Linked DNA regions of Homo sapiens: regions 1 and 2 are each reported to be linked to region 3. Evidence: microRNA targets listed by miRTarBase, many of them from high-throughput screens and not tested one by one. Region 3 holds a microRNA gene; each other region holds the end of a gene's coding sequence.

What was found. Region 3 holds the annotated microRNA hsa-miR-4504 (UGUGACAAUAGAGAUGAACAUG, at 5,108-5,129, opposite strand). A microRNA usually pairs through its seed, bases 2 to 8, with sites in the 3' UTR of a target mRNA and lowers its output. Matches are read on the target gene's strand: a 7mer-m8 pairs with bases 2 to 8, a 7mer-A1 pairs with bases 2 to 7 and ends in A, and an 8mer does both.
Region 1: miRTarBase lists RFWD3 as a target of hsa-miR-4504. Seed matches in the 3' UTR shown: 7mer-m8 at 7,379-7,385.
Region 2: miRTarBase lists UBE2A as a target of hsa-miR-4504. Seed matches in the 3' UTR shown: 7mer-m8 at 3,783-3,789 and 7mer-m8 at 4,785-4,791.

The regions. Positions count from the first base shown.
Region 1 is chr16:74,614,203-74,624,519 of GRCh38, forward strand. It overlaps RFWD3 (ring finger and WD repeat domain 3), which reads right to left. Exons shown (of 13, transcript NM_018124.4): 13 at 7,197-9,869. The coding sequence ends at 9,726. Among named protein-coding and RNA genes, the nearest start is that of GLG1, 12 kb to the left of the region's middle. RefSeq lists an enhancer at 6,559-7,058.
Region 2 is chrX:119,579,527-119,589,886 of GRCh38, forward strand. It overlaps UBE2A (ubiquitin conjugating enzyme E2 A), which reads left to right. Exons shown (of 6, transcript NM_003336.4): 4 at 1,981-2,070; 5 at 3,062-3,150; 6 at 3,601-4,897. The coding sequence ends at 3,729. It overlaps NKRF (NFKB repressing factor), which reads right to left. Exons shown (of 4, transcript NR_163972.1): 4 at 8,811-10,360. Among named protein-coding and RNA genes, the nearest start is that of UBE2A, 10 kb to the left of the region's middle.
Region 3 is chr14:50,294,764-50,305,123 of GRCh38, forward strand. It overlaps MIR4504 (microRNA 4504), which reads right to left and starts at 5,183; the gene lies at 5,092-5,183. L2HGDH (L-2-hydroxyglutarate dehydrogenase) reads right to left here. Exons shown (of 10, transcript NM_024884.3): 2 at 8,139-8,254; 3 at 7,254-7,405. RefSeq lists an enhancer at 4,725-5,418.

The DNA.
Region 1 (10,317 bases), not on the chromosome of region 3:
CGAAAATTAGCTGGGTGTGGTGGCACATGCCTGTAGTACTAGCTACTCAGGAGGGTGACGCAGGAGAATTGCTTGAACTTGGGAAGTGGAGGTTGCAGTGAGCCAAGATCACACCTCTGCACTCTAGCCTGGGTGACCGAGTGAGACTCCATCTCAAAAAAAAAAGCCTCAGCTCTAGAAGCTGGGCAAAGGAGCATGACTTATTGGGGGTGACCACCCTTAGCCTCCTGTTCCTCCATTCTTGTGGACCTTATTGGCTATAGATGTTGAATAGTTCCCTTGCTGGTCTTGGGTGATGTTATCCTTTATTAACCATCTCTATACTCCCCGCTGGTCAAGACCCCTTGGTCGCTATTTTCTTATTATTTTTTGAGATGGAGTCTTGCTCTGTCACCCAGGCTGGAGTGCAGTGGCACAATCTCGGCTCACTGCAACCTCTGCCTCCCGGGTTCAAGAGATTCTCCGGCCTCAGCCTCTCGAATAGCTGGGACTACAGGCGTGTGCCACCACGCCCAGCTAATTTTTGTGTTTTTAGTAGAGACAGGGTTTTACCATGTTGGCCAGGCTGGTCTTGAACTCCTGACCTCAAGTGATCCTCCTGCCTCGGCCTCCCAAAGTGCTAGAATTATAGGTATGAGCCACCGCATCTGGCCCTTGGTCATCACCTTTGATCTTGCTGGTAATGGTGGTAATTGTGGTCTCCTGGCTTCTGGCACTTAAACATTGCCACCGGGTCTTTATTATTCTGGGGCCCTAGTCAGCCCCGTCTTACCACCTGTTTTCTTGGAACACTCCTGGCACTACTTGTGTGAGTCCAGGTCTGCCAGGAAGCAGACAACAAAAGGGGATTACCTATGCAAGAAATTTATTAGGGGCAACAGTTGTAGGAAAAATGAGGTGGCTGAGAGAGCCATGTGACCATGATGCTGGTCCAACACTGTGTGAAGTACAGAGGGAGGGAAGGAAGGACGGGAGGATTCGGTGGAAACATCTAAGACTCAACTTAAACTGAAATTCATTTCTAAGAAAGTCAGCCAAGGTCCGGCACGGTGGCTGACGCCTGTAATCCCAGCACTTTGGGAGGCCAAGGCAGGCAGATCACCTGAGGTCGAGAGTTCGAGACCAGCCTGACCAACATGGAGAAACCCCGTCTCTACTAAAAACACACAAAAAATTATCCGGGCATGGTGGTGCATACCTGTATTCCCAGCTACTCGGGAGGCTGAGGCAGGAGAATCACTTGAACCCAGAAGGCGGAGGTTGCAGTGAGCCAAGATCTCCAGCCTGGGCAATAAGACCAAAACTCCGTCTCCAAAAAAAAAAAAAAAAAAAGAAAGTTGGCCAAGGCCATAGGATAGTCCTCATGCAAAAGTTACCTGTCACTGAGTCTTCCAGAAATGGGCCTGCGTCAGTAGCCCTATCACTCTTAGTCAAGACTAGGAGGATCCTTGGGATGAATGCAGTTGTAGATTTCAGTGCTCAGCAGATCAAACAGAGGTCAATCATGTTCCCCACAGCTGGAGATCTGAGAGGCTCATTTTCAAGGTCACCACATCTGAGTAACTTCTTTAACTAGAGAATCTCTTTCATATAAAAGGCATAGCATGGCTGGGCGTGGTGGCTCACGCCTGTAATCCCAGCACTTTGGGAGGCCAAGGCGAGCAGATCACCTGAGGTCAGGAGGTGAAGACTGGCCTGGCTGACATGGTAAAGCCCAGTCTCTACTAAAAATACAAAAATTAGCCGGGTGCAGTGGCTCATGCCTGTAATTCCAGCACTTTGGGAGGCTAAGCGGGGCAGATCATGAGGTCAGGAAATCGAGACCATCCTGGCTAACATGGTGAAACCCTGTCTCTACTAAAAATACAAAAATTAGCTGGGCGTGGTGGCAGGCGCCTGTAATCCCAGCTAATTGGGAGGCTGAGGTACAAGAATCGCTTGAACCCAGGAGTCGGAGGTTGCAGTGAGCCAAGATCGCGCCACTGCACTCCAGCCTGGCAGGAGTGAGACTCCATCTAAAAAAAAAAACAAAAAAAATTAGCCAGGTGCGATGGCATGCGCCTGTAATCCCAGCTACTCGGGAGGCTGAGGCAGAAGAATCACTTGAACCTGGGAGGCAGAGGTTGCAGTGAGCCAAGATCATGCCACTGCACTCCAGCCTGGGTGACAAAGTGAGACTCAGTCTCAGGGAAGAAAAAGAAATTGTTTAGACTACTAAGCTAGGACATTGGTGACTTCATATTGACAAGACTTAAGGGATTAAAAATGAAATAACAGGCCAGGCGTGGTGGCTCATGCCTGTAATTCCAGCACTTTGGGAGGCTGAGGCAGTGGATCACTTGAGGCCAGGAATTTGAGACCACCCTGGCCAACATGGCGAAACCCCGTCCCTACTAAAAATATAAAAAAATTAGCTGGGCATGGTGGTGTATACCTGTAGTCACAGCTACTTGGGAGGCTGAAGTGGGAGGATCACTTGAGCCTGGGAGGCAGAGGTTACAGCAAGCCGAGATTACACCACTGCACTCCAGCCTGGGTGACAGAGTGAGACCCCATTTCAATTAAAAAAAAAAAAAAAGAGTAACAAGTAACATATTTCTAGACACCCCCACATTATCCAGCTAAGAGACCTGAACTTGTCTGTCACAGCAACCTCAGTGACTGTCTAGACGAGAATCTAAGACTCCTGGAGAAGAAAAACTCACCCAGCATTCTGATCTGTAGACAGTAGAGACCGGACTGTAGTTTGAATATTACTTCCTTTATGGCAATTTGCCAGTTTGCAGGAATATCATGTCTTTTGGAGAGGGTCTCAATCAGAGAAACAAATGTTAGCATTTGATATTTCGTTTACTTCCTTGACTCAAGGGCAAGTGACTCCTGTGAGCTGAGGGGGTAGCATACTGTTTGCCTAGTGAAATACCATCTCTCTATCTCAAGTCAGGACATCATCTTCAAGAGAGGAACTGGGGTCATCGCTAACTCTGGAGCTTCCACTGGGGTACAAGTGAGGTGTCAGAACTTCACTGAGCTTAGATTCCGTGGCAATTTCCCATCTTCCCCCCTACCCTGTCACCCTTTCTCATGTTAGGCCCTCATTGTTTCCCATATGTTCCTGCACAATCTAACCAGCAATTTTTTGTACCAGGCTTATGAGAAAGGAGGAAGCCACATCATCACTCAACACCCCCTCCATAGCTCAAGCCTGGGAATTCCCCTGGACCCTCCTGGAGGCACTCTTTTTAACTCTGGTGACATTTCTCTTAAATGGGAGGGTCTACAGGCATTGGAGTTTGAAGGCAGAGCATAACCATTTATCCAGGGCAGGCATCCCCTTCTTTATTCCAGGAAATAAGTGGCCTGCCAACTTCCCACTTACAACTTTCATTAACCAGCAGCTTATCCAACTGTTGGCAGCTCACACAGAGCTGGCTTAGGTAACAAAAGTGCCAGTTTTTTGTTTTTGTTTTCTTTTTTTGAGACAGTCTTGCTCTGTTGCCCAGGCTGGAGGGCAGTGGTACAGTCTAGGGTCACTGCAACCTCTGCCTCCCAGGTTCAAGCAATTCTCCTGCCTCAGCCTCCCAAGTAGCTGGGATTACAGGTGCCTGCCACCACGCCTGGCTAATTTTTTGTATTTTTAGTAGAGACGAGGTTTCACCATGTTGGCCGCGCTGGTTTTGAACTCCTGACCTCGTGATCCACCTGCCTTGACCTCCCAAAGTGCTGGGATTACAGACGTGAGCCATCGTGCCCGGCCATTTTTTTTTTTTTTTTAACCCAAGCATCTGTTCAGTGATGTCCTGAACTTTGTTTCCCCCTCAGCCTTCAACTCTCCCTTTATCCAAATCCAGATATTTAAGTTGGTACCTATGTTCAGCCTCTAAGGAAGCCTTTCTGCTGGGTGTCTGTAACTGGATAAACCTGTTATTACTCCTCAGGGACCAGCGTGGGTTCATGGCACTCCTCACATCTCGACAGTAGACTCCTTATTCAGCTGGCCCTGCACCCTGCTTTCTAGAGCAAGCCCAACAGCTCCTCCACCTTCCTCCTCTCTTCAGCTGACCTTTCCGATGACCACTGCTGGGCAGTTCTAGCCCATGTGTCATAGCCTCTTCTATGAACCCGTTTTTTCTTCTATTGGACAGTGGGGTTCCCAGCCTCAGCACCCAGAAAACTACTTGAAGACTGTAGTGCCACATCATGAGTATGACTGTCTGCTTTGTTGTAATTTTCAATGCAGAAGAAATAATTTGTGGGGGCTTAGCCTAGGGTGTTCTGGAGACAGAGCTATGAAGAGTGAAAATGAGCTTTCACCCAGGCTCTCCAACTCCTGCTTTGCTGTTGGTAACACAAAGTATAGACTGGGAAGACGAGGACATATAAAATTTAATTAAATACCATCTGTCATTTTCCTTTATTAGGATTTTTTCTTTTTTTTTTTTTTGAGGTGAAGTCTTGCTCCCGTTGCGCAGGCTGGAGTGCAGTGGCGCGATCTTGGCTCACTGCAACCTCCACCTCCCAGGTTCAAGAAGAAGCTGGGGCTGGGTGTGGTGGCTCACGCCTGTAATCCCAGCACCTTGGGAGGCCAAGGCGGGCAGATCACGAGGTCAGGAGATCGAGACCATCCTGGCTAACACGGTGAAACCCCATCTCTACTAAAAATACAAAAAAATTAGCCGAGTGTGGTGGCAGGCGCCTGTAGTCCCAGTTACTCAAGAGGCTGAGGCAGGAGAATGGCGTGAAGCCGGGAGGCAGAGCTTGCAGTGAGCTGAGATCGTGCCACTGCACTCGAGCCTGGGAGACAGAGCAAGACTCCGTCTAAAAAAAAAAAAAAAGAAGCTGGGATTACAGGTTTACGCCACCATGCCTGGATCATTTTTGTATTTTTAGTAGAGACAGGGTTTCACCATGTTAGCCATGCTGGTCTCGAACTCCTGACCTCAGGTGATCCATCCTCTTTGGCCTCCCAAAGTGCTGGGATTACAGGCATGAGCCACTGCACCCAAGCTTTATTAGTATTTTTAACCTGTTTCTTCCCCCGTAAGATAGAATAATAATATGTATTCCATAACATTAAGAATTACTTATTAGTAATATATATTTACTAAGATGTTACTTAATATATTAGTAAACCATAAAGAGATAAAACAGAGAGTGTTACCAACAAACATAAGTTGACTAAGAACAAGGACAAACAAATGTCTATTTTTAGAATTTTGGCCAGACATGGTGGCTCATGCCTGCAATCCCAATGCTTTGGGAGGCTGAGGCGGGAGGACTGCTTGAACTAGAAGTTTGAATCCAGTTGGGCAACAAAGCAAGACCCCCGTCTCTACCAAGAAAAAAAAAGCAAAAAAAAAAAAAAATTGGCTGGGCACAGTGGTCCACAACTACAGTCCCAGTTACTTAGGAGGTTGAGGAGACAGGATTACCTGAGCCCAGAAGTTTGAGGATGCAGTCGAGATAGGATAGTGCCACTGCACTCTAGCCTGGGTGACAGTGAGACCCCGTTTCTTAAAAAAATTTTTTTTCAGAATTTCACTTATAGTCAATCACTGACACGGAAAACAAAAAAAGGGTACTGTGAAAAACAAAAACAATGGTGTTGGGTTTTGTAATTTGGGGTTCACTTCTATCCTAGGACCTCTGTCATTTTCCCTTAGAGCACCAGGCTCCATGAAGTTAGTAAGCTTATACCTATGGATTCAGTTCTCCTGGAATCCAGTATACTCCATTTGCTGTTCAGCTGGAAACTGGAAAACATTTTCAGCCTTTCCAGCCTAATTCCAGAGCACCATGATTTATGGCAACGAAGATTCTTGAACTCAAACAGAACAAAGAAACTGAGGCAGGTGGCCAGAACTGTACTGAGCAGGAACCCTGAAACCCATACTTGCCCATTGCTGCTGCCACGGTCAGAAGTGCCACCAATGACTAAAAGAAATAAAGGGAACAAAAGTCCTCTCCTCCTCTCTCTTCCTCCCACTTTAAAGTCTCCTGGATTCAAAGAAACTAGCAGGAAGCCAGCAGACAAGTCTGGGAAATGTAGATCCCTAGATCTGAGAGTAAATAGACATAAGACCAGGACATTTTTTTTTTTTTTTTTTGAGACGGAGTCTCACTCTGTCACCCAGGCTGGAGTACAGTGGTGCAATCTCAGCTAACTGCAACCTCTGCCTCGCGGGTTCAAGCAATTCCCCTGCCTCAGCCCCCTGAGTAACAGGTGTCCGCCACTACGACCAGCTAATTTTTATATCATTTAGTAGAGATGAGGTTTCACCTTGTTGGCCAGACTGACCTTGAACTTCTGACCTCAGGTGATCTGCCCACCTTGGCCTCCCAAAGTGCTGGGATTACAGGCGTGAGCCACACGGCCAGGGCACAGGGTTCTTAAGAGGCAAACACATCGCTTTCCACTGGCAACAGCAAAACAGAACCGCAAGCTAAAGCCTCAACCACTTCATTTGTGTGAAAAAGAGAAAATCTATGGCTGGGTGAGGTGGCTCATGCCTGTAATCCCAGCACTTTGGGAGGCTGTCAAGATGGACAAATCACTTGAGGTCAGGAGTTGGAGACCAGCCTGGCCAACATGGTAAAACCCCGTCTCTACTAAAAATAGACAAATAAGCCAGGCATGGTTGCAGGCGCCTGTAACTCCCAGGTACTGGAGAGGAATGAGGCAGGGGAATCGCTTGAACCCGGGAGGCAGAGGTTGCAGTGAGCTGAGATTGAACCAGTGCACTCCAGCCTGGGACAACAGAGTGAGATTCAGTTAAAAAAAAAAAAAAAAAAAAAGGCCGGGTGCGGTAGCTCACGCCTGTAATCCCAGCACTTTGGGAGGCTGAAGCAGGCAGATCACAAGGTCAGAAGTTTGAGACCAGCCTGACCAACATGCTGAAACCCGTCTCTACTAAAAATACAAAAATTAGCCGAGCATGATGGCGCACACCTGTAATCTCAGCTACTCAGGAGGCTGAGACAGGAGAATCTCTTGAACCTAGGAGGCGGAGTTTGCAGTGAGCCAAGATGGCGCCACTGCACTCCAGCTAGGGCTACAGAGCAAGATTCCGTCTCAAAAAACAAACAAACGAACAAACCCGAGAAATCTACCAGGTTGGGATTATATCCCTCTCCCAAGAGGCAGACATGTTCCTGCCTCTAGAAGTGAAAGAGACAAAAGGCACTAGGAGCCATTATACATAGCAAATTCTTTATTTTCATATTAACAGTAAAACATAAAACAGAAACATTAAAACAGGGCATAAACAGAGTTCCCATGGCCCTGTTTTCAAAGCAGGGGCAAGAATACATACAATGACAAGACATTTTGAGTTCGTTTAACTCCAAATCCTCAAGTGGGGAAAAAAACTTAGAGGTAGTGACAAAGGAATATGGTGGGGCAGAGACTGGTGGAGCCCAGAAGACTAAAGCCTGGATTTATAAATGTGATGTCCTACAACGGGGACTGGGAATGGCATCAGGGTTTTTTTTTGTTTGTTTGTTTTTTTTGAGATGGAGTCTTGCTCTGTCACCGAGGCTGGAGTGCAGTGGCGCGATCTCGACTCACTGCAACCTCTGCCTCCCAGGGTTCAAGCAATTCTCCTGCCTCAGCCTCCCAAGTAGCTGGGACTACAGGCATGCGCACCACTGCACCCAGTTAATTTTTGTATTTTTAGTAGAGATGGGGTTTCACCATGTTGGTCAGGCTGGACAAGGCTTTTTTTCTTTGGAGAAATCACTCACGATCGTATGAATTTGCTTCCAAAACATCCAAATTTAATGTACTAATGCAAGGACTGGTAAGACTTAAGATTCACATAACGTCCCTCATAGTTAAGTCTCTTGCTTCCTACTATTAGTGGAATCAATCAGCATCAGGTACTTCAAAGAAAGTCAAATCCTAAGCCTGCCCAGGCCCAAAGACAAAGCCAGCCAGGACCTGACCACCTGTATCCTCTTGGTGGCAATCTGCTGAAGCCAGATGAGTTCTGCTTTTTAATTCCAATCCTATTCTGCCACTGAAACTAGGCCTGGGCAACCACTCTTAATCATTAACATATCAAAAGGAGTATCTCCTCTGAGAAAAGAGCTTTTCTCAGGTTCTAGAAGCTAGCTTTTACAAAAGACGTCTTCAAATAGGGGCCGGGTGCAGTGGCTCACGCCTATAATTTTGGCACTTTAGGAGGCTGAGGTGGGAGGATTGCTTGAGGCCAGGAGTCCAAGACCAGCCTGGACAACGTAGTGAAACATCTATTTCTACAAAAAAATTTAAAAAAGGAAAAAATTATGTCCTAAAATATTAAAGGGTCATTAAAAGGCACAACTAGAACTTGGAACTCTGGGGAAATCTAGTGCAACAACCCCTTGCCGGAGAGAAAGATCCTAGAAACAGCTCTTGAATTGACAGGTCAGAAGTGTTTTATAATAAAAACGATAACAACTCTTCAATAATCATTTGAGAAAATCAGACTGTTAAGCCATTTTCTCCCATGAACAGGACACTGACCTGCCCACATCTTGAAGCATATTCTGTTGTGGAAGTGGGTTGGCAAAGTAGTCTGAGGCAAGGCAAAGAAATACAAACTGAGCCCTAGAAAAGGTTAGGGAGGCAAATCAAAGGAAACTGGAATCAAACATCAGCTTCACATGGGGAAGGCTTTAACTGGATAACTGGAATGTATAAAGAACACTTAAGAACAGCCCCTCAGTCTGAGGAATTGGCTTTATTTAGATAGGAACTCTCAAAATGGGAGACAAGTTCTTCTCATGTTTTCAATAGCAGTCTGAATAGCTTTTGTAAATTCTCTTATGTCTTTTCTCCTGATCTCTGACACTAGGGGAGACTCAAGTAAAAGCTTTGACCTATCACTCATCTTTTCCTGGCAAGAGATAGTGTTCTTCAAAGCACTAGCTTGGATAAAACCAATCCTGAGATCCTAAGCTGGCTAGAAAAAACAAAATCTTCCCCACCGCTCAAACAACTGGCCTCTTTCCTTACCTTTCGCAAAGCAATGAACTTAATGCACTAGGCATTAGCAAAGGGAATCGTTCACTAGCTGCTTCCATCACTGGGCCTGCCAATGTCCCAGCACTTCACACCTGGAACACAAGTGTTATTGCCACAAAGCACACCCAGGTGTGCTATCACACACTTGTGTGGAGATGAGACAAGTTACTAAAAGATTGTCAGCCTTCAAGGTCAGAAATAAACCGGACACAAGGTTCTACAGTGCCCTCTTGTGTTCAACTGAATAATACTCTTTTACATCTACGTTGCATCAAATCAGTACCAAGACGATGGTTAGTCCCTTCAAGGATACTTAAGTGACAGGACAACTCAGATGGGATGTCATATTCCCCAGAAAATGCTTGATGCCCACTCACATCCTAGATGATGAGAGGACACTCTCTAAGGTCCAGAAAGTCACACAGAAAATAAAGAAAATAAGAATTTCCAACATACAATAATGGTTAATGAAGGCTTTAAACCCAAGAAATGGATAATGTAGATAAAGTACCCATCAATTACTCTTTTAGTGGACATAACAGATACACAATCTGTAGTGTCTCAGTGACCTAGGGTCCTAGAATCATACTAATGCAAACAAACCATGATTCCCAATGTTCTAGACTGCAGACAATAAACAGGGATCTTGCTTGGGGCTGCTAGGCGCTAGCAAACAACATCTAACCAGCAGCATGCCTTCAAGGTTTCGAGACCACAGTCACTCCCACTTATAGATGTGGACCATCTTCTCTGTTAAGGTAGCCAAGTAGCTGTTACGGTTCACCTCAAATGGGCAGATGTCCAACACAGGCTGATCGGTCTGTAGGTCCTGGAGCAACGAGCCACTGGCAGCATCCCACAGCTAAAGAACACAAGCAGAGGGAAGGGTCAGGAGTCAGTCAGTACACGAAGGGACTTCCATTCTTCATCATCTAACAAGTCTGAAAGGCTGCAGAGAGAACACTACCTGGAGAGCAAAGCAGGCTGTCCCTAACCTTTGCAAGGTTGTTCAAAGTCAGCACACCTGACATAGTTCAGGTACAGCCTCACCTACTGTAATCAGCAATTAGTCTACCTGTAAGTGGACCTGAAATAAAGCCCAGCTTCCATTCATTCAATGTGCCAGCCTCTTCTAGGGACAGAAGGGTCAATAAGATAAAGTCCCTGTCTTTGCCCTCATGGAACTCACCCTTTTTTTTCTTTGAGACGGAGTCTCACTCTTGTCACCCAGGCTGCAGTGCAGTGGCACGATCTTGGCTTACTGCAACATCTGCCTCCTGGGTTCCAGCGATTCTCATGCCTCAGCCTCC
Region 2 (10,360 bases), not on the chromosome of region 3:
CTCACAACAATGCTATATGGTGGGTACTATGATTAATCTCATTTTACAAATGAGGAACTTAAGGTTTAGTCAAGGAGAACACCTTCCCCAAAGTCTCACAGCTAGTAAGTACCAAAGCAAGGACTTGGGCCCAGACCTGTCTGACTGCAGAGCTCATGCTCTTAGCAGTGTGTTTTACTGTTTTTGCTTATGGCTTCCCTATGTCTTGCTTTACTACCTTTAGATACCATATTTAGTGATGGTTTTGAAGTAGCTGGGATCTCCATGTGCTATTACATCTGCCCAGTTTTAGAGCAGTGTCTCTTACCCATAATTTAGTCAGATTGCAACATTGATCCAAATGTGTTTACACTTGAGATCATAATACATAAGGAAACTCAAAGTTTTGAACTCTAACACATTCCCACTTTTTCTTGCATATTATAGTGTCAATAAATACTGAAAAGGAAGAACTGTGCTTTCTTCCTCAGAAAGAGGAAGATTTATGACCAGGTGGTGATAAAGGTGAAGTATGTTCTGATGGACATACTTCCATACTTCTAATGGGCATATGTTTGTCCATTCCATAAGATTTTACTTTCTTAGTTATAATACATAGTATCTTCAGGTCTGGCTTTGAAAAGAAAATAGGGAGTAACAATAATTTGAGGAATATAATGTCTCTGTATGTTGCATTTTATATTATTTTGAAGCTTTGAGACACTTGTTCATAGTAAGGGCAGCTTTGTTAGCAAATTGTTTCCAATGAGCTTGCTAAAAACAAACTTTTTGATACTGTTTTGTCACAGATCTAGTCCTAGAATGATTATAGTCTTCTCTCTTTCTTAAGCAGTGATAAACCTTTTAATGAGAACAAAAAGGAAATAAATTGCTAACTCTGAAGGAACCAGTAAGAAATACACTGAAGTATGGTCTGTTGTTTTAGAATAATTTGTTAAATGGACCAGAGTAATATAGTGGAACATGCATCACCTTATACCATATAGTAACTGATTCTTCTAAGTTTACTTGAACAGATTTCAGTCAGGAAAAAACATTGCTCAATTGTGTTCTTCAATTTATTCAACAAACAATTGAAAATAATATTTTAAAGGACATAATCTCTTCATATCACATCTTAACAATTCTTGAATGAGATCCAGTTTGTCCATGCCTTGTAAGTAAGTTTATAACCTACTATGCTTTAGGGCCTCCTGCTACCTTAGGTTGACATATATTTAAGAAAAATAATTTCATTTCAATAGTAGCATAAACATTAGAAAAATAAATTTGCTGGAAACATGAATGCAATCTAAACCAAATGTGATTTTAAAATTATTTCTGCCATTAATTCCCTCCATATGTGTGAATAATTGAGTTGATTTTATAGTGAAGTACCTTATGAGCCATACTTAAGGGTTTCTGAGAGGGACTATGAAGTTTTTCCTGGCTTAAATTCAATTAAGTTTTCATTATAGGGTCACTATGACATGAAAAGGAACCAGTATGAACACTTTTATACTTATTCCCTTCTATTTTAAAAATAACTTGATTATGGATTTGTATTCTGGCATTGGTTTTTGAACCATTGTGCTTTCATTCTTTCTAGTCTGTCTAAAAATCACTGGAGCGTTTAAGATGGCAGCTGACTAACATAGGCCTTTGAGGTCTTTTGGTCTTCTAAAGGAAGAAGGCCAAATTTTGGGCCCAGTTTCTTAAGGATGTTTTCAAAATGTACAGTGGCTAAAATCTTGTAAGCAGTAATTTTGTGTTTATGATGGCTGTCTCCAAGTTTGGGGGAAAATAATGGCAAAACAAAAAATCACATTTGAGTAGTTCTTAGAGCAATTCCTAGAGATGTATTTCTTACCTGGCCTTTCCTCTCTACCCTGTATCTTTGCATTATTTAATACTTGGAAAAACCCACATAGCATTAAAAACAAAGTACTACTGAACAAAGTGATAAATACATTTTCTTAAATCTTTCTTTTCTAACCACAGGAACATTTAAACTTACAATAGAATTCACTGAAGAATATCCAAATAAACCACCTACAGTTAGATTTGTCTCTAAGATGTTCCATCCAAATGGCAAGTATCACTTTTAGTACAGTGTTTTAAACTACTATAGTGTTTATTATGGAGTATTCCACATTTCCTGTGTATTTTGTGGTGCCTGAGTATTTGTTTAGGCAGCTTGCTGCTTCTTGAAAGCTGAACTTGTTCTTGGTTGTCTGTGGCTGTCTTGTCCTAGAACTGAAGCAGTGGAGGTATTTTCCCTTTGCTTGGAGTCTGGGAGCCTCCTGATTTTGATGACCTTTGTCATTTACTTATTAAACAAAATGAAGGATGCTCTTGAGGTTTCCTTTTAATGCTAGGCCAGATTGGGATAGTCTTGTGTTGTAATTATTTTCACTAGCGTTTAGAAAAGTAGTTTTCATTGGACGCATATCAGAATTACTGTGGAACATTTTAAAAACACAGATGCCTTCGCCCCACTCCAAACCTAATGAATAGGATTCTGTTGTTGAAGGCCAGGCATACGGTATTGTCAGAAAAGCACCACAGGTGATTCTAACTTAACCACTTTGCACTTTTTAAAATAGTAGTAAGCCTAGAACAGCTTGCCTTTTATTTAGGTTAATGAAGTATTTTTCAGGGTATCAGATATGTTTATCTTTATGCCAAAATGAAATCTTGTGAACTCTGAGTGATCTTTTGTTATTTCAGATAGGGGATACAGCCTACAAATTTGGTGGAATGAATTTCCCACATGTCTGTGGATAGCTAGGGACCCTGTTCAAAAATGTTTCTGATTTCCTGGATAATAGGGCAGCCTTTTCCAAAGGATGAACACTAAATATCTTCCAGTTTTATACTGATCACATCTGACATTCTCTGATCATCCTGATTATTTCACTAGTGGTGGTTATGACTTATCTTTTTAGGCAGTTAACTGGGAAGCAACATAGGAATCTTTAAACTTCAAAAGCAAAGTATTCTTGACTATTTTTGTTTTGTCTATAATGTTAAAACCTTAGTGGTCTTGTTACGTTTAATGTACCTACTTCTTTGTTCTTAGTCTATGCAGATGGTAGTATATGTCTGGACATACTTCAGAACCGTTGGAGTCCAACCTATGATGTGTCTTCCATTCTAACATCCATACAGGTGAATTTTTCCTTAATGTGACGAACTATAACTTTTAATATGTTTATATTAGCAATTGAATTGTTTTTGAAAGTCATAATGTAATAGATCTTTTTATTTTTGGTCAAAGCTTGTTTGTTTTATAGATGAAAAGTAGACCATTAAGACCCAAGTCAGCTGGGTACAGTCGCTCACACCTGTAACCTCAGCACTTTGGCAGGCCAAGGTGGGAGGATTGCTTGAGTTCAGGAGTTTGAGACCAGCCTGGGCAACATAGTGAGACTCTTCTCCCTTAAAAAAAAAAAAAGCCGCATATATTTTCCTAGCTACTAGCAGATTCACATAACTCTGGGTTTGTATGCTAAAGACAAGAAATGTAGCTGTACTTAGGACAATTCAATTGAGTGTCACTACCTTATAAAATAGTTGTTTTGCATTAAGGAACTGACATTTTAAAAATTGTCTCTTTAGTCTCTGTTGGATGAACCCAATCCCAATAGTCCAGCAAACAGCCAGGCTGCTCAGCTGTACCAGGAGAACAAACGGGAATATGAAAAGCGTGTTTCTGCAATAGTAGAACAAAGCTGGCGTGATTGTTGACCCCGGGTACAGTTTAAAGAAGCTGGCCATAAGAAAAATATATATTGATGTGTTTGTCACCTCCCTACTCCTGTCATTACATTTACTTTATTAAAAGCAAAATAACTGTTGTGCTGTTTCCATCTTCCTTGCCAAGTTTTCCTACCCCTTCTACCCTCTCCTTAAACATCAGAAAACACCCTCTATGAAATCAAATGTACTGTACCTGGGTTACTTGCAAAAATTACTAATGCTTCAGTTTTTCTGTTGTATTTCATTTCCAGTTTTCAGGCAGTTATTTTTATTATTGTACTTTAAGCTTTTAAGATGAATTGTTATACAAGAGGTGCTTATGCTTAGCTTGATGACCAGGATGTTATTTTTAACAAAATGATTGCTGAAGTGTTTCATCCTGGCTGGTCCTTCACTTGTGTTGGATTTAGAAGTGAATGTGTTTGGAATATGGCCTACAGAGAATAGAAACAAATCCATGTAAACAATTTTGAAGGAGGCATGGGAGCTAAAAATCCTGTGATACTAAGATCTCAGTCATATGAATTACAACGTAGTATTTACTGGCAAGAAGGAGAAAGTTGAAGGACTCAGCTAAAGGAGTACAGCAATTGTAGTAACTGACACATCCTCTCTTTGCAAGCTGCTGACTGGGCACACTCATGCCAAGTTTCAGAATTATTGGTCTTCTGGGTTTTTGCTTTTTAAAAGAGGTGTGGGAGCAGAGGAATGGAAACAATCGTGAGTTTTTGAGCTAGGGAAAGTTGGAGCTCCTTTAATCTTTTTAAAGGATCAGTGCTGCCCTAAGTGAATAAACTCAATTGTCCATCTTTATTTTAGAGTTTTAATGAATTCAAGGAAGGGAGCATAGCATATCTGTGGCAAACTATTTTCCACTCAAATCCTGAGTTATTGCTGCATGCTTTAATTTCTTCCCTTTCAGCATCTGAGAACCTTAAAGCCAATGTCTGCGATCTTTTTTTGGATATTTATACTTTTAGATATATAGTACCTTTAAGTAGCAGTATGGGACAAGGCTTGTAAATGTTTTGTCTAATGTTCTATTGTCACCTTTTATGCATTTATCACTTCCAAATCTAACTTTGCACAAGTAACCCATGTAAAAAAAAATGTACATTTTTCAAAAGTTGTAAATAAAAATAACCTTAAAATTTCATAGTCAAGGTATCTTTTTTTTTTTTTTTTTAGCTCAGTATAAACTTTTTGTATTGGTTTCTTATTGGGATCTCATATGTACTCATTTCCCCCCTCAAACATTAAGGTAAAAGCAAAAATACTCATTCTGGGAGGGGAAAAGACAAGACAGATACTTCTGGAGAGAACTTTTTTTTTCTTTCCAGTCATAAGTGGTAATGCTTTTTAAATATATTAACAGAATATGTTGCCGGGCACAGTGGTTCACGCCTGTAATCCCAGCACTTTGGGAGGCCAGGGCGGGCAGATCACGAGGTCAGAAGATCAACCATCCTGGCTAACACAGTGAAACCCTGTCTCTGCTAAAAATACAAAAAGAAATTAGCCAGGCGTGGTGGCATGCCCCTGTAGTCCCAGCTGCTTGGGAGGCTGAGGTAGGAGAATCGCTTGAACCAAGGAGGCGGAGGTTGCAGTGAGCCAAGATCGCGCTACTGCACTCCAGCCTGGTGACAGAGTGAGACTTCTTCCTCTCAAAAAAAAAAAAAAAATTTAACAGAATGTAAAATTATTAAATAAAGTTACCTCAGTATACATTATAATCAATCAAGGGAATGAGGTTATGGGGGGCGTGCGGGGGGCAGGGATAAACCAACCTAGGTATTTATCAGCACCCTCAGAGACCAAGATCTAACTTGTTGATCCTGACATACCACCTCTTTAAAAGCCCTAGCTCAAAAACAAACAGTACCAAACTTTTTTTTTTTTTTTTTTTTTTTTTTTGAGACGGAGTCTAGCTCTGTCGCCCAGACTGGAGTGCAGTGGTGCAATTTTGGCTCACTGCCACCTCTGCCTCCTGGGTTCAAACGATTCTCCTGCCTCAGCCTCCTGGGTAGCTGGGATTACAGGCGCTCGCCACCATGCCCAGCTAATTTTTGTATTTTTAGTAGAGATGGGGTTTCACTGTGTTGGCTAGGCTGGTCTTAAACTCCTCCTGACCTCATGATCCACCTGCCTCGGCCTCCCAAAGTGCTGGGATTACAAGCCTGAGCCACCGTGCCCGGCCTAGATGGTATTTTAAATCCTATGCAAAGTTTGGGAGTACAGATATCCTCAATCACTTTGATTAAACAAAACTACTTTCTTCTGAGGAGCAACCCATCTCATTTGAAAGAGGCAAGGACAATGACTTTGTAAAAACTACCACCTCTTGGTACTTGTTTGGTTGGGTGGATGGGGCTAAATGAAGTTAAGTCCTTATGACACATGTATCTCACTCATCTTTTAAGACATGGTACTTGAAGCCTCAGTATGGAGTACAATCTGTACTAATTACCACATTACTTGGATTGTTTCACCTAGGAGCAATGTCCTTCAATTTGCTTAATAGTTTCCCTCAAGTCCATTTCTGCTTCAAAGTAGAACCACATTAAATTTTTCTATTTGGTGGATTAGTTTTACATTAACTTTTTCATCCTGCTATGTGGCTGAGTGCTTTAAATTGACACTGTTAATCATACCTGAAACAATGTAAGGCGAGACTCAGAATGGTCAGGTTTAATAACTTTTTTCTTCTGTACACCTGAGAAACACTATACCCAATCTCTTTCACAGGATAATCCATTTAAAACCTTACAACAGAGCCAACAAGCTGACCTCCCAAAACAACATATGCATGGTCAAAGGCACCACAAACCATTCATTTGAACATTTCATGCTAATTGCCTCTTTCTCCCTTTAAAATTTTTAACACCACAGGCTACATGTATTGATAACAAAGTTAATGAAAACAAATTTGCAATGTCCCTTTTTCAAATGGCAGTCAGGTTTGAACTTTTCAATTCTGCACGTGCTGATGTGGGGAAGGAGGTATGATGAAGAACCAAAGCTGCAATTAGAATCCTTTATTTAGGACCCATCTCCAGCTTCAGGGGTTACTCATAGCAAAGAGAATGCATTGTATACTACTAAAAAAGAATCCCAACAAAGTGCATGATATTGCCATTCATTTTGCAATCAAAGGGGAGGAAAAAAATCCAAAAAGTAGATCTGTGATACTAAAAGCTAGATATAAAATGGAAAGAACAGTTAGTTCCTCAGTATAAAAAACACTTAATCCAAATAAAATTTGAAATTGCTCATGTACCTGTACAGATTGTATAGGAAGGTTACTGGGTTAAGAATGACTACATTTCAAAGAAAGGGAAAATACAGTAACCAACTGAAAGGGGACAAAATGGAACAAAATGGAACAACAGCAAGCTTGTCAGCAGCTCATTCATGCCAACGCCATTCTCAACATTATTTTATCCTCAAGCAAGTTAAGTGATTTTGCTCTAATTCTGTATCAATATCACAGATCCTAAGAAGTTAGGCAATCTGGCCCCTCAAATCCAGTAACCAAATTTGTATCTACTTGGTGCAATTATTTGGGAGCCTTCCTAACTGTAACTACCTTAATATTCTGTTCTGTTGGACTCACCTAGACAAACCAGATTATATTTAACAATCCCCTACCTTTCCCTGCCTCAAAATCATTTGGGGGAAGAAAGAAATGTAAAGAGAGTAATCAGTGAAGTTTTCATATCCCTTAATCCCAAAGCCACTCTTACTCAGAGAATTGAAAACAGGTTTTTTTCTAACTCACAAATTCAACCATAGCTTCTGAAGGTTGGCATGAACCTTGTAAATTAAAAACAAAACAAAATTGTAGCCCGGGTGTAGTGGCTCATGCCTGTAATCCCAGCACTTTGGGAGGCTGAGAAGGGTGGACTGCGTAACTCCAGGAGCTTGAGACCAGAATCCCATCTCTACTAAAAATACAAAAAATTAGCCAGGCCAGGCGGTGCGCACCTGAAGTCCCAGCTACTCGGAAGGTGGAGGTTGCAGTGAGCCAAGACTGCGCCACTGCACTCCAGACTGGGTAACCGGAGTGGGACCCTGTCTCAAAAAACAAATTGTAATCCTACAAAATCTATAAACATTTTGCTTAGTTTTTTTTGCCAATGTTAATATGAAGTGGCAAAATAAAATGTACACCTCATTTCTCTTCCTACCGACATTAAGAAAGGCTATGCACTGTAGGAAGACGGTTAATGGAAAACAATTATCACACTGTTTAGTTACCGTAGATGAGTACCAGTTACAGAAATCCAGGTGTAAAGGCTAATCCCTTTATATTTTTTAAGCATTAATTTAACTACAGTGGGCAGCTGCTTAATGTAAAATATAAAAAACAGGGCCAGGCACGGTGGCTCAAGCCTGTAATCCCAGCACTTTGGGAGGCCAAGGTAGGGAGATCACCTGAGGTCAGAACTTCAAGACCAGCCTGGCCAACATGGTGAAATCCCGTCTCTACTAAAATACAAAAATCAGCCGGGCGTGGTGGCGGGTGCCTGTAATCCCAGCTACTTGGGAGGATGACACAGGAGAATCGTTTGAACCCAGGAGGTGAAGGTTGCAGTGAGTCGAGACTGCACCATTGCACTCCAGCCTGGGCAAGAAGAGCGAAACTGCATCTCAAAAACAAACAAACAAAAAACGGGAAAGGAAATTACGATTTCTTGTTGGCCAATTACATGTCAAGCACGGTGCTAAATGTTGTCAAGCACTGTAAACCACCTAATTGTCCTGAACATCATTTCATTAGAGGTGTCTAGTGAGCAATGGTAAATTCACCTGTGCTGTTATGAGGTTATACTTGATTTATCTGAGATACAAAAATAAAATCACATAAAAGGGGGCAGCCAAAGATTTGGTTGAAGCCAGCATGTTGGTCCATAGGAAAAAAGTGATAGTTGACTGATTCCTATCTGTTAAATCCGGACATTCATCCACATGTGCTCTGGGTGCTGAACTATTCTGTGCAAACACCACTTCCCTTCTCCAAAGACCCAGTGTTGCTACAAGGCTGCTGCCCGGAAATGAGCACGCCACCATTCTGATCAACTTTGGCTCCTTTTTATTCAGGAAGCATACACTAATTCTTTTTATACATTTTTTTTTTTTACATTCCAGAAATAAGCGAAAATAGCAGTTTTAAATATGTTACAAAGTTGGCTTTTCAGGCTTAATAAGCTTTTTGAGAGAGGGACCAGCCAACTGACCTTTTCATCAAAGCACCAATGTATCTTCAGTCTTTTACCAAGCTCTACCACAGCTGTGGTTGCCTTGGATGTGCTGCACATCCAAACCGTGTGAAAGCTATAATGGAGAGTTGCTGTGAGTCTCTCTGCAAGGCACCAAGAACAAACAGTTCAAGCTTCCTTTCTTCAGATTGAACCAAAGTTTTTGAAACTTTCAACTGCTCTCTCAAGTAGTGCTCTCTCAGCGTGAAGACTAGAATTTGTTAAAACCCATATATCACAAGATACAGTAAATCACTTCCAATAGTCTGGAAATCACATGGTAGAAGTTATAAATAAATGAACACTAAAATTACTTTAAGAAAGTTTTACATCATTTAGTTGGTAAGGACATTTACGTGTACAGCACAATTTATTGTCAAACATTCTATAACTGGCTTCACACAAAGATGAAAATAGATTAATACAAAATGATCTGACATTTTCAGTAAATCTGGAATTAAGACTGGATTTTTATTGTAGTCAATATCAACTTTACATATTGTTGCAGATTGCTGTGCTATGCCCTTTAAAATGATAATTTCTCAGGGTAAAATTCCATTTGGATATGTGTTCTTGCTTGTCAAACTACTAAAATCTGAGGGACACAGCAATATCAAAGACACAAACAGTAACTGCACAATATCATCTGCTGGATTAAGCTAATACAAGTGGACAGAATTCTTTAGGTTCCAATATCTAATAAACCACTATGTGAAATGAACAAGGTGAGACATCTTATGAATATACTCTGCAACCGGAACATGTAGCATTTCTTTAATTCAAAAATCTGCCTCATTAGGCATTTACAAAATAAATTAGTAAGATCTCAATTTGCTTGAGGCATAACAAGCTCGTAATGGCCCACTTGGCCTTCCTGTTTGAGCTGATCTAGTAGGTCTTCCTTCCGTCTTTTTCTACCTACCACTAGGTACCTATCATGGCCCACCCCATGAGACTTACTCTTAAGACCATACTTCTGGGCAATCTGATGTATTTGCTTCCGTTCATCATTAGTCAGCTCTCTAGAGAAAGTCAAATCTGTGTGGCTCTCGGAGCGGGCGTAGTTTCTGATGATCTGTTCAATATCTCTCTTGGCAATTTTATTCACCCTCTCTACATCCAGACCAAGCCCTTCCCGCTTATGCTGCTCTTTCACTGAGATAGGCTCCCGTATGCCCTCACCAGATTTACCTAAACCACCACCAGTCCAACCCATCTTTCTCAGCAGCTGATTTCCAATATTATCTTCTTTGATTTGCTGTTTGTAAGCCTCCTCTGCTGAGCGGCCCTGAATTTCATTTCTTGAAATCACATCTTCAACAGCTCCTTTCTTCAAGTTGTTAATGACAGTTGGCTGGGTC
Region 3 (10,360 bases):
GTTGCAGGGGGAAAACAGTCAATTCATCAACTTATTTATTTCTTTTCTATTTATTTATGGGAAAAATATCTGAGGTACAGTTTCTTCTTTACTTAAAGAAAGGGGCAAAGGAAAACACAGGTGCATATTCGAAGGTATATTAGAATTCACAAGTCATTATTTCATACCAAAGAGGCAACAGAATTTCATGAGGTGACACTTTTAATCAAGGTATAAAGGCTATTTAAATCAATAAATAATTAACCTTAAAAACAGAAGTGGAATCAAAGGACTCTATCAAGTAAGTGAAAAGACAACCCACACAATGAGAAAAAATATTTGCAAGTCACGTAGCTGATAAAGGTCTAGTATTTAGAATATGTAAAGAATTCTTACAACTCATAATAAAAACTGTAACTAGACTTTTATATCTTGCCTTTTTCACTTATGTCAGGCCCATTTTACTGAATTGTTTTTTAAAATGTGGCCATGCACAGGGGCTCATGTCTATAATCCAAGCTACTTCAAAGGCTGAGGCAAGAAGACCACTTGAGCCCAGGAGTTCAAGGCTGCAGTGAGCTGTGATTGTGCCACTGCACTCCAGCCTAGGCAACAGGACAAGACCCTGTCTCTTAAAAAAATTTGTATCTATTTTTAAAATTTCTATTTATTTATTTATTTGAGACAAGGTCTCACTCCCATTGCCCAGGCTATAGTGCAGTGGCCCAGTCATGACTCCCTGCAGCCTCGACTTCCCGAGCTCAGGTGATTCTCCCACCTCGGCCTCCCTAGAAGCTGGGACTACAGGCATGTGCACCACACTCGGCTAATTTTTTTTTTTTTTTTTTTTTTTTTTTTTAGTAGAGACAGCGTTTTACCACATTGCCCAGACTGGTCTCAAACTCCTGGGCTCAAGCAATCTACCCACCTCGGCCTCCCAAAGTGCTAGGATTACAGGCATAAGCCACTGAGTCCAGCCCTACAATTTTTTTTTCATAGCATCTTTTTTTTTTTTTTTTTAATTTCGCTCTTGTCACCCAGGCTGGAGTGCAATGGCAGGATCTCGTCTCACTGCAACCTCTGCGTCCCAGGTTCAAACGATTCTCCTGCCTCAGCCTCCCAAGTAGCTGAGATTACAGACGCCTGCCACCATGCCCAGCTAATTTTTGTGTTTTCAGTAGAAATGGGGTTTCACCATGTTGGACAGGCTGGTCTCGAACTCCTGACCTCAGGTGGTCCATCCACTTCGGCCTCCCAAAGTGCTGGGATTACAGGCGTGAGCCACCACACCCAGCCTCATAGCAACTTTAATGGTGACAATGAGCTTTTATTCTTAAAAATTATAAGGGCCAGGCACGGTGGCTCATGCCTGTAATCCTAGCACTCTGGGAAGCTGAGGCTGGTGGATTGCTTGAGCTCAGGAGTTCGAGAACAGCCTGGGCAACATAGCAAAACCTGTCCCTACAAAAAAATACAAAAAAATTAGCTGAGTGTGGTGGTGTGCACCTGTAGTCCCAGCTACTAGTGGGCTGAGGTGGGAGGATCACTTGAGCTCAGGAGGTCAAGGCTACAGAGAGCCGAGATTGCACCACTGCACTCCATCCTGGGTGACAAAGTGAGACCCTGTCTCAAAAAAAAAAAAAAAAAAAAAAAAACTTATATGAAGGACATGACTACCAACACTGCAGAAATAAAAGGACTTATAAAAGAATACTATGAACAACTGTATGGCAACGAATTAGAAAATCTAGATGAACAAATTATTAGAAAGACACAAACTTCTGAAACGGATTTGAGAAGAAAAACTTAATAAACCTATAACACATGAAGTGATTGAAAACTTCCCACATTAAAAAAAAAAAAAAAAGCCCAGGCCCAGAGGCTTTATTCATGAATGCTACCAGATGTTAAAAAAAAAAGTAATACTAATTCTTCATAAACTGTTCCAAAAAACAGAAGAGTAAGAATCACTTCCCAACTAATTCTGTGAGGCCAATATTAGTTTGATACTAAAACCAGTGCTCTGGTTTCTCTTCAGAAAGAAAAAATATTTTGCCTTTTACCAAAACCAGATATCGTAAGAAATTGCAAACCAATATCCCTTAAAAATATTAATGCAAAACCCTGAACAAAATACTAATAAACTGAATGCAGCAACATATAGAGAGGATTTTACACCATGACCAAGAGGGATTTATCACAGGAATGTAAAATCAATTTAACATCCAAAAATGTATTAATACACTACATTAATAGAATAAAGGATAAAAACCACATGATCACCTTGATAGAAGCAGAAAAGGCATTTGAGAAAATTCAACACCTTTTCATGATAGAAAACATTCAACAAACTAGGAATAGAAAGGAACTTCCTTAATCTGATAAAGGGAATCCACAGCTAACATCATACTTAAGGGTAAAAGATTGAATGCTTTCTCTATTAGATCAAGAACAATTCAAGAAGGTCCACTTTTACTACTTCTGTTCAACACAGTATTGGAGCTTCCACCCATGGAAATCAGGCAAGCAGAATAAGTAGTTAAAAGACATCTAAATTGGAAAAGAAGTAAAACTAACTTATTTGCAGATGACATGATCCTGCATATAGTAAAGCCTAAGGAATTCATAGACACACACACACACATACACACACAATTAGAACAAAATGAGTTCAGAAAGGTCACTGGATTAAAAAAAATCAACATACAGAAATCAATCATATTCTATGCATTAGCAATGAATTATAAAAAATGAAAGTAGGAAAACAATTCTCCTCACAAAAGCATCACAAAGAATAAACTACTGAGCACTACAGACCAAATGGACCTAACAGATATTTACAGAGAGTTTCATCCAACAGCTACAGAATATATATTCTTCTCCCCAGCACATGGATCATTCTCAAGGATAGACCAATATGTTGGGCCACAAAACAGGTCTTTAAAATTTTTTTTAAATGAAATTATATCAAGTATATTCTCTGACCACAATGGAATGAAACTAGAAATCAATAACAAGAGGAATTTTGGAAACTATACAAACACACAGAAATTAAACAATATGCCTCTGGCCAGGCATAGTGGTTCACACCTGTAATTTCAACACTTTGGGTGGCCAAGGTGAGAGGATCACTTGAGCACTTGAGCCCAGGAGTTTGAGACCAACTTGAGCAACGGAGGGAGATCCTAACTCAAAAAAAAAAACCAAAACGAACAACAACAACAAAATGACTGGGCATGGTGGCTCATGCCTGTAATCCCAGCAATTTGGGTGGGTAGATCACTTGAAGTCAGGAGTTTAAGACCAGCCTAGTTAACATAGTGAAACCACATCTCTACTAAAAATACAAAAATTAGCCAGGCATGGTGGCGTGAGCCTGTAGTCCCAGCGACTTGGGAGGCTGAGGCTGGAGAATTGCTTGAACCCAGGAGGTGGAGGTTGCAGTGAGCTGAGATGGCACCATTGCACTCCAGGCTGGGTAACAGCAAGACTCTGTCTCAAAAAAAAAAAAAGAAAAATTAGCCAGGCATGGTGGTGCACCTGTGATCCCCATTACTCCAGAGGTTGAGGTGGGAGGACTTTTTTTTTTTGAGACAGAGTTTCGCTCTTGTTGCCCAGGCTGGAGTGCAATGGCGCGATCTCAGCTCACTACAACCTCTGCCTCCCAGGTTCTAGCAACTAACCTGCCTCAGCCTCCCAAGTAGCTGGGATTACAGGCATGAGCCACCACACCCAGCTAATTTTGTATTTTTAGTAGAGATGGGGTTTCTCCACGTTGGTCAGTCTGGTCTCGAACTCCTGACCTCAGGTGATCCCCCGCCTCAGCCTCCCAAAGTGCTGGGATTAGGGGTGCGAGCCACCATGCCCGGCCGGGAGGTCAAGGCTGCAGTGATCTGTGAGATAGTGCCACTATATTCCAGCCTGGGTGAGACAGAGACTCTATCTCAAAAAAATAAACAAACAAGCAAACAAAACCAATACGCTCCTAAATGACCAGTGGGCCAATAAAGAAATTAAGAAGGAAATTTAAAAATCTGTTGAAACAAATGAAAATAGAAAGACAACATACCAAAACCTATGGGAAACAGCGAAAGCCGTACTAAGAGGAAAGTTTATAGCTATAAGCACCTACATCAAAAAAGTAGAAGAACTTCATATAATCTAACAATGCATCTTAAAAAACTAGAAAAGCAAGAGCACACCAAATTCAGAATTAGTAGAAGAAAATAAATAATAAAGATCAGAGCAGAAATAAATGAAATTGAAACAAAGAAAACAATACAAAAGATTAATGAAAGGTTGGTTTTTTGAAAGGATAAATAGAATTGACAAACCTTTAGCCAGACTAAGAAAAAGAGAAGACCCGGATAAATAAAATCAGAGATGAAAAAAGAGACATTACAACCAATACCACAGTAATTCAAAAAATTGTTAAAGGCTACTATGACCAACTATATATGCCAATAAGTTAGAAAACTTAGAATAAATGAATAAATTCCTGGACACATACAACCTACCAAGATTGAACCATGAAGAAATCCAAAACCTGAACAAACCAATAAAAGGCAATAAGATCGAAGCCATAATAAAAAGTCTCCCAGTAAAGAAAAGCCCAGAACCTGATGGCTTCACTGCTAAATTTTACCAAACATTTAAAGAAGAACTAATACTAAACCCTACTCAAACTATTCCATAAAGTAGAGGAGGAAATATTTCCAAACACATTCCATGAGGCTGGTATTACCCTGATACCAAACCCAGACAAAGACACATCAAAAAAATGAAAACTATAGGCCAATATTCCTGATGAACACTATACAAAAATCCTTAACAAAATACTAGCAAACCAAATTCAACAACACATTAAAAAGATCATTCATCATGACCAAGTGGGATTTAACCCAGGGATGCAAAGGATGGTTCAACATATGTAAATCAATCAAGGTGACACATCATATCAACAAGATGAATGACAAAAACCATACAATCAGGCCAGGCGTGGTGGCTCACACCTGTAATCCCAACACTGTGGGAGGCCAGTTCAGGTGGATACATAACAAAAGACCAGTCAGCCTTAAAAAAGGAGAAAATCTTTAAGATAATGAGAAATACTTAAGATAATATCCTCCATGTTCATCTCTATTGTCACAAATGGTCCATGCCACAAATGACAACAGAGATGAACCTGGAGGACATTATCTTAGGTGAAATAAACCAAGCACAGAAAGATAAATACTGCGTGATCTCATTTACATGTAGAATCTCAAAAAGTTGAACTCACAGAGGTAGAGAGTGGAATGGTGGTTACCAGGGGCTGAGGGTGGCAGGGAGGCAGGGGTGGTGTGGAAAGATATTTGTTAAAGGACACAAAATTTCAGTTAAGTAAGAGGAATAAGTTCAGGATATCTATTACACAAAATGTTGATTATAGTTAATAATGTATTATATTCTTGAAGACTGCTCAGACAGTAGATTTAAGTGTTTGCATCATAAAAAAAAAATAAGTATGAAAGGTAATGCATATGTTGGTGAGCTTGATTTAGCCATTCCACAATGTACACATACTTCTTGAGACAGAGTCTCACTCTGTTGCCCAGGCTGGAATTCAGTGGTGTGGTCTCGCCTCACTGCAACCTCTGCCTCCCAGGGTCAGGCAATTCTCGTGCCTCAGCCTCCCGAGTAGCTGGCATTACAGGCGTGTGCCACCACACCCGGCTAATTTTTATATTTTTAGTAGAGATGGGGTTTCACCATGTTGGCCAGGCTGGTCTCGAACTCCTGACCTCAAGTGATCTGCCTGCCTCAGCCTCCCAAAGTGCTGAGATTACAGGCAGGCGTGAGCCACCCTGCCCGGCCCATAACGTATACATACTTCAAAACAACATGTTGTACATGATAAATATTTACAATTTTTGTCAATTAAAAAATAATTTTAGGCCAGGCACAGTGGCTCACATCTGTAATCCCAGCACTTCAGGAGGCCAAGGCAGGAGGAGTGCTTGAAGCCAGGAGTTTGAGACCAGCCTGGGCAACAAAGCAAGATCCTGTCTCAACTTTTAAATAAGAAATAAAGTTAAAAAATAATAATTTTAACTTTTTTGAGGCAAGGTCTCACTCTGTTGCCCAGGCTGAAGTGCAGTGGCATAATCATGGATCACTGCAGCCTTGATCTCCCAGGCTCAAGCAGTCCTCCCACCTCAGCCTCCCAAGTAGCTGGGACTATAGTTGTGCACCACCGCACCCGGCTAACTTTTTAAATTTTTTGTAGAGATAGGGTCTCACTATGTTGCCCGAGCTGGTCTCAAACCCTTGGGCTCAAGAACTATTTTCTAAAAAGGAAAAAATAAAAGACACTCAACATCATTATCACTAGGGAACTGCAAATCAAAACTTCCACTAGGATGGCTAAAATAGAAAAGACAAACCAAAATAGATGTTGGCAAGGACATGGAAAATTGGAATCCTTATTAATTACTGGTGGGAATGTAAAATAGCACAGAGCTTTGGAAAACAATTTGGCAGTTCCTCAAAATGTTAAACATGGAGTTACCCTGACAATCCAGCAATTCCCCTCCCAGGTATATAACCAATATAAATGAAAACATATGTTCACAAATAAACTTATACATGAATGTTCATAGCAGCATTATCCATAATAGCCAAAAGGTGGAAACAATCCATATGTCTATCAACTGATGAACAAATAAAATGTGGTATATCCATACAATGGAATATTGTTCAGCCATAAAAGACATGAAGTACTGATTCATGCTACAACAGGGATGAACTTTGACAACATTATGCTAAGTGAGAGAAGCCAGTCACAAAAGACTACATAGTATATGAATCTATTTATATGAAAAGTGCAGAACAGGCAAATCCACAAAGACAGAAAGTATACTAGTGGTTGCTAGGGCATCGGGGGAGGTAGAAATGGGAAGTGACTGCTAATGGGTATGGGGTGTCTTTTTGGGGTGATGAAAAAGCCTGAAATTAGATAGTGGTGATGATTGCTCAGCTCTATAAATATACTAAAAATTGATCTGTGCACTTTAAAAGGGCGAATTGTATGGTGCATAAATTATATGTCAATAAAACTTTTATTTAGAAAATTACATAACGTCACACCATCTTTTTTTAGTTATTCCCTAAGATTAGATTTGAAAAATTACATAGATACAAAGAAAAAAATACATTTTTAAAAAATGTAATATTAAACATCACTAAGCAAATGCTAGTTGGAAATTAGTCAAGGCTCTAATAAAATGCCATACCTTGCCACACTGCTTGTAGGAAATTCCCTTTTGCTGACAGTACTCATAGAGGAGGGCTGCACCTTGTACACATAATTTGGCTTTCAGAGACTCAGGTTTATAATAAATTCCACTATGTATGACACCACTGTTATGTCCAGTCTGGTGAACAGCTACAGAACAAGAGAAACAGGGTAAGAGTAAGTACATGATTCATACAAAACATAAGAGGTAAGAGAACAAACTTATAGTTGAAGCTATTAGAGACCACATCATGTAAAATTCTGCCTGAATTTGTTCAGATCACTGGTAACTTCTTCTAACATCCCTGGTATCCATGTCACATCCCTCCAGCCCATCTCTGATTTCAACTACAACTTTGGTGCACAAACTCACCTCTCATTACCAGCAAACCACTTCAGGGGCCCCCTAGGGCTCTTTGCACTCTGCCTTGGGGCCTCTGGTAACTTTTTTAGAGAAGGGCACGGGGTGCTCAACATCACTAGCGGCAATCCTCAACCAATAGAGAGAAGAGCCGATGGATAAAGTGAGCACAATCCTGGGAAATACTACATTGCTCCTCAGAGGCTCCGGTGGAATCAAGCTCACAGCCACAATCTTGATGTGTTCTCATGTCTTTTCCTCCTTCCCTGTCTTACTTTCCTCACCCCCTCACTCCTGTTTCCTGAGATAACCTCTCAAATAAATAACCTATAGACACGTCCTCCTTGTCCCACACTCGGCTTTAACCTCTCAAATAACCTATAGCCATGTCCTTGTCCCACACTCTGCTTTTAGAACACAAACTAAGAAACTAACACTGACATTCAGCATGAAAGATTCACAACAGACAAAATGAGCAGATGCCCAAGTAAGCCCAAAGAACAACATTGATTATATACATACCTAAATCTTTCTCCTTTTCCAGAACACCAATAGAAAGTGATGGATGTCGCAGGATGAGTGCTCTGGCAGAGGCAAGCCCCACAATTCCGCCACCAACGATGACTATATCAAATGAGCTTCAAAAGAAAGTCATCTTTAAAGTAATTCATATTTACAGTAGACCTCGCCAAACTTCACATGCATAATTTTCATCAATGGACAATTAAACCATTAATTTGTAATCATGAAAACGTATTCGGCGGCCGGTCGCAGTGGCTCACACCTGTAATCCCAGCACTTTGAGTGGCCGAGGGGGGCGGATCACGAGGTCAAGAGATCGAGACCATCCTGGCCAACATGGTGAAACCCCGTCTCTACTAAAAATACAAAAATTAGCTGGGCGTGGTGGCGCGTGCCTGTAGTCCCAGCTATTTGGGAGGCTGAGGCAGAAGAATCACTTGAACCTGGGAAGCAGAGGTTGCAGTGAGTGGAGATCACGCCACTGCACTCCAGCCTGGTGACAGAGCAAGGCGACAGAGCAATGTATTGGGCCCTGTGCTGTTTGGTTTCACATGTATTAAAAAAAAAAAACCCTTAAAAGTTATACTAATCAAGCCTGGGTGTGATGGCTCATGCCTGTAATCCCAGCACTTTGGGAGGCCAAGGTGGGTGGATCACTTGAGGTTAGGAGTTCAAGACCAGCCCGGCCAACATGGTAAAACCCCATCTTTACTAAAAATACAAAAATTAGCTGGGTGTGGTGGCAGGCACCTGTAATCCCAACTACTCGGGAGGCTAAGGCTGGAGAATCGCTTGAACCTGGGAGGCGGAGGTTGCAATGAGCCGAGGTCATGCCACTGCACTCCAGTCCAGCCTGGGAGACAGCGCCAGACCCTGTCTCAAAAAAAAAAAAAAAAAGTTAGACGCATTAAAAAAAAAAAAAAAAAACCTCAAAAGTTATACGCATCACTGGTCAGTAGTATAATCAACTACAGCTTACTGGCAGGCAGGATAGCTGGTTGCCCAATCTGCTCTTTATCTCCATAGCACGGCAGCCAGGCTGGTTACATAAGTGACTGCAGTCATGCGTTGCTTAACCATAGGGTTAGGTTCTAAGAAATGCATTGGTAGGCGATTTCCTTGTGCAAACAGCATAGAATGTACTTACACAAACCTAGATGATATAGCTTACTGTACACCTAGGCTATATGGGATAGCTTATTGCTCCTAGGCTACAAGCCTGTACAGCAGGTTACTATATTGAATACTGCAGGCAACTGTAACACAATGGTAAGTATCTGTGCATCTAAAAATGTGTACATATAAAAAAGGTACAGAAAAAATATGGTATTATAATCTTTGGTATCACCACTGTACATGCAGTCTGTGGTTGACCAAAATGTTGTTATGCGGTGCATGACTATACTTTGTGTTAAGCATAGTCATGATTCTACTACCCAGCCTTTCAAAATTCCAATGTAGTACTCTTGACAATGTGTTAACACATTAAAGCTTTAACACTTTAGTGTGCAAGAATTTTTACAAGTTTTTCTTTGAGAAGTAAACAACTCCGAGAAAATAAACCTTGGGGCAATAATTGGTCCAGAAATGGGCTTAGGAACCACAATCTTTGCCATGGCAAATCCTGATTATACAACCATTTACAAAATTAGGGCCGGGCGTGGTGGCTCACGCCTGTAATCCCAGAACTTTGGGAGGCCAAGGCGGGCAGATCACGAGGCCAGGAGGTTGAGACCATCCTGACTAACACGGTGAAACCCCATCTCTACTAAAAATACAAAAAATTAGCCAGGCGTGGTGGCGGGCACCTGTAGTCCCAGCTACTCGGGAGGCTGAGGCAGGAGAATGGCGTGAACCCAGGAGGCGGAGCTTGCAGTGAGCCAAGATTGCACCACTGCACTCCAGCCTGGGCGACAGAGCGAGACTCTGTCTCAAAAAAAAAATTTAGAACAACCATGTATAATTTATATAAATCTGCAATTCGAAGCTTAAAAGATTACCTTTAACACTGACCTGATAGCCAACAAATATGGATCTTATAGGAACTGTAGACAGAGGGAAATTTCAGAGATTAGGCCCTTTCTTCGAAAAGTGATCTAAGTTTCAATTTCAAAATCCTTAGCAAAGCACATCAATTTGATTAGAATTGCTACCACATCTTTGGCTGTATCTGGAACCAGAAACAGATCCTAGACAACTAGGAACTAACACGTAAGCTTGAT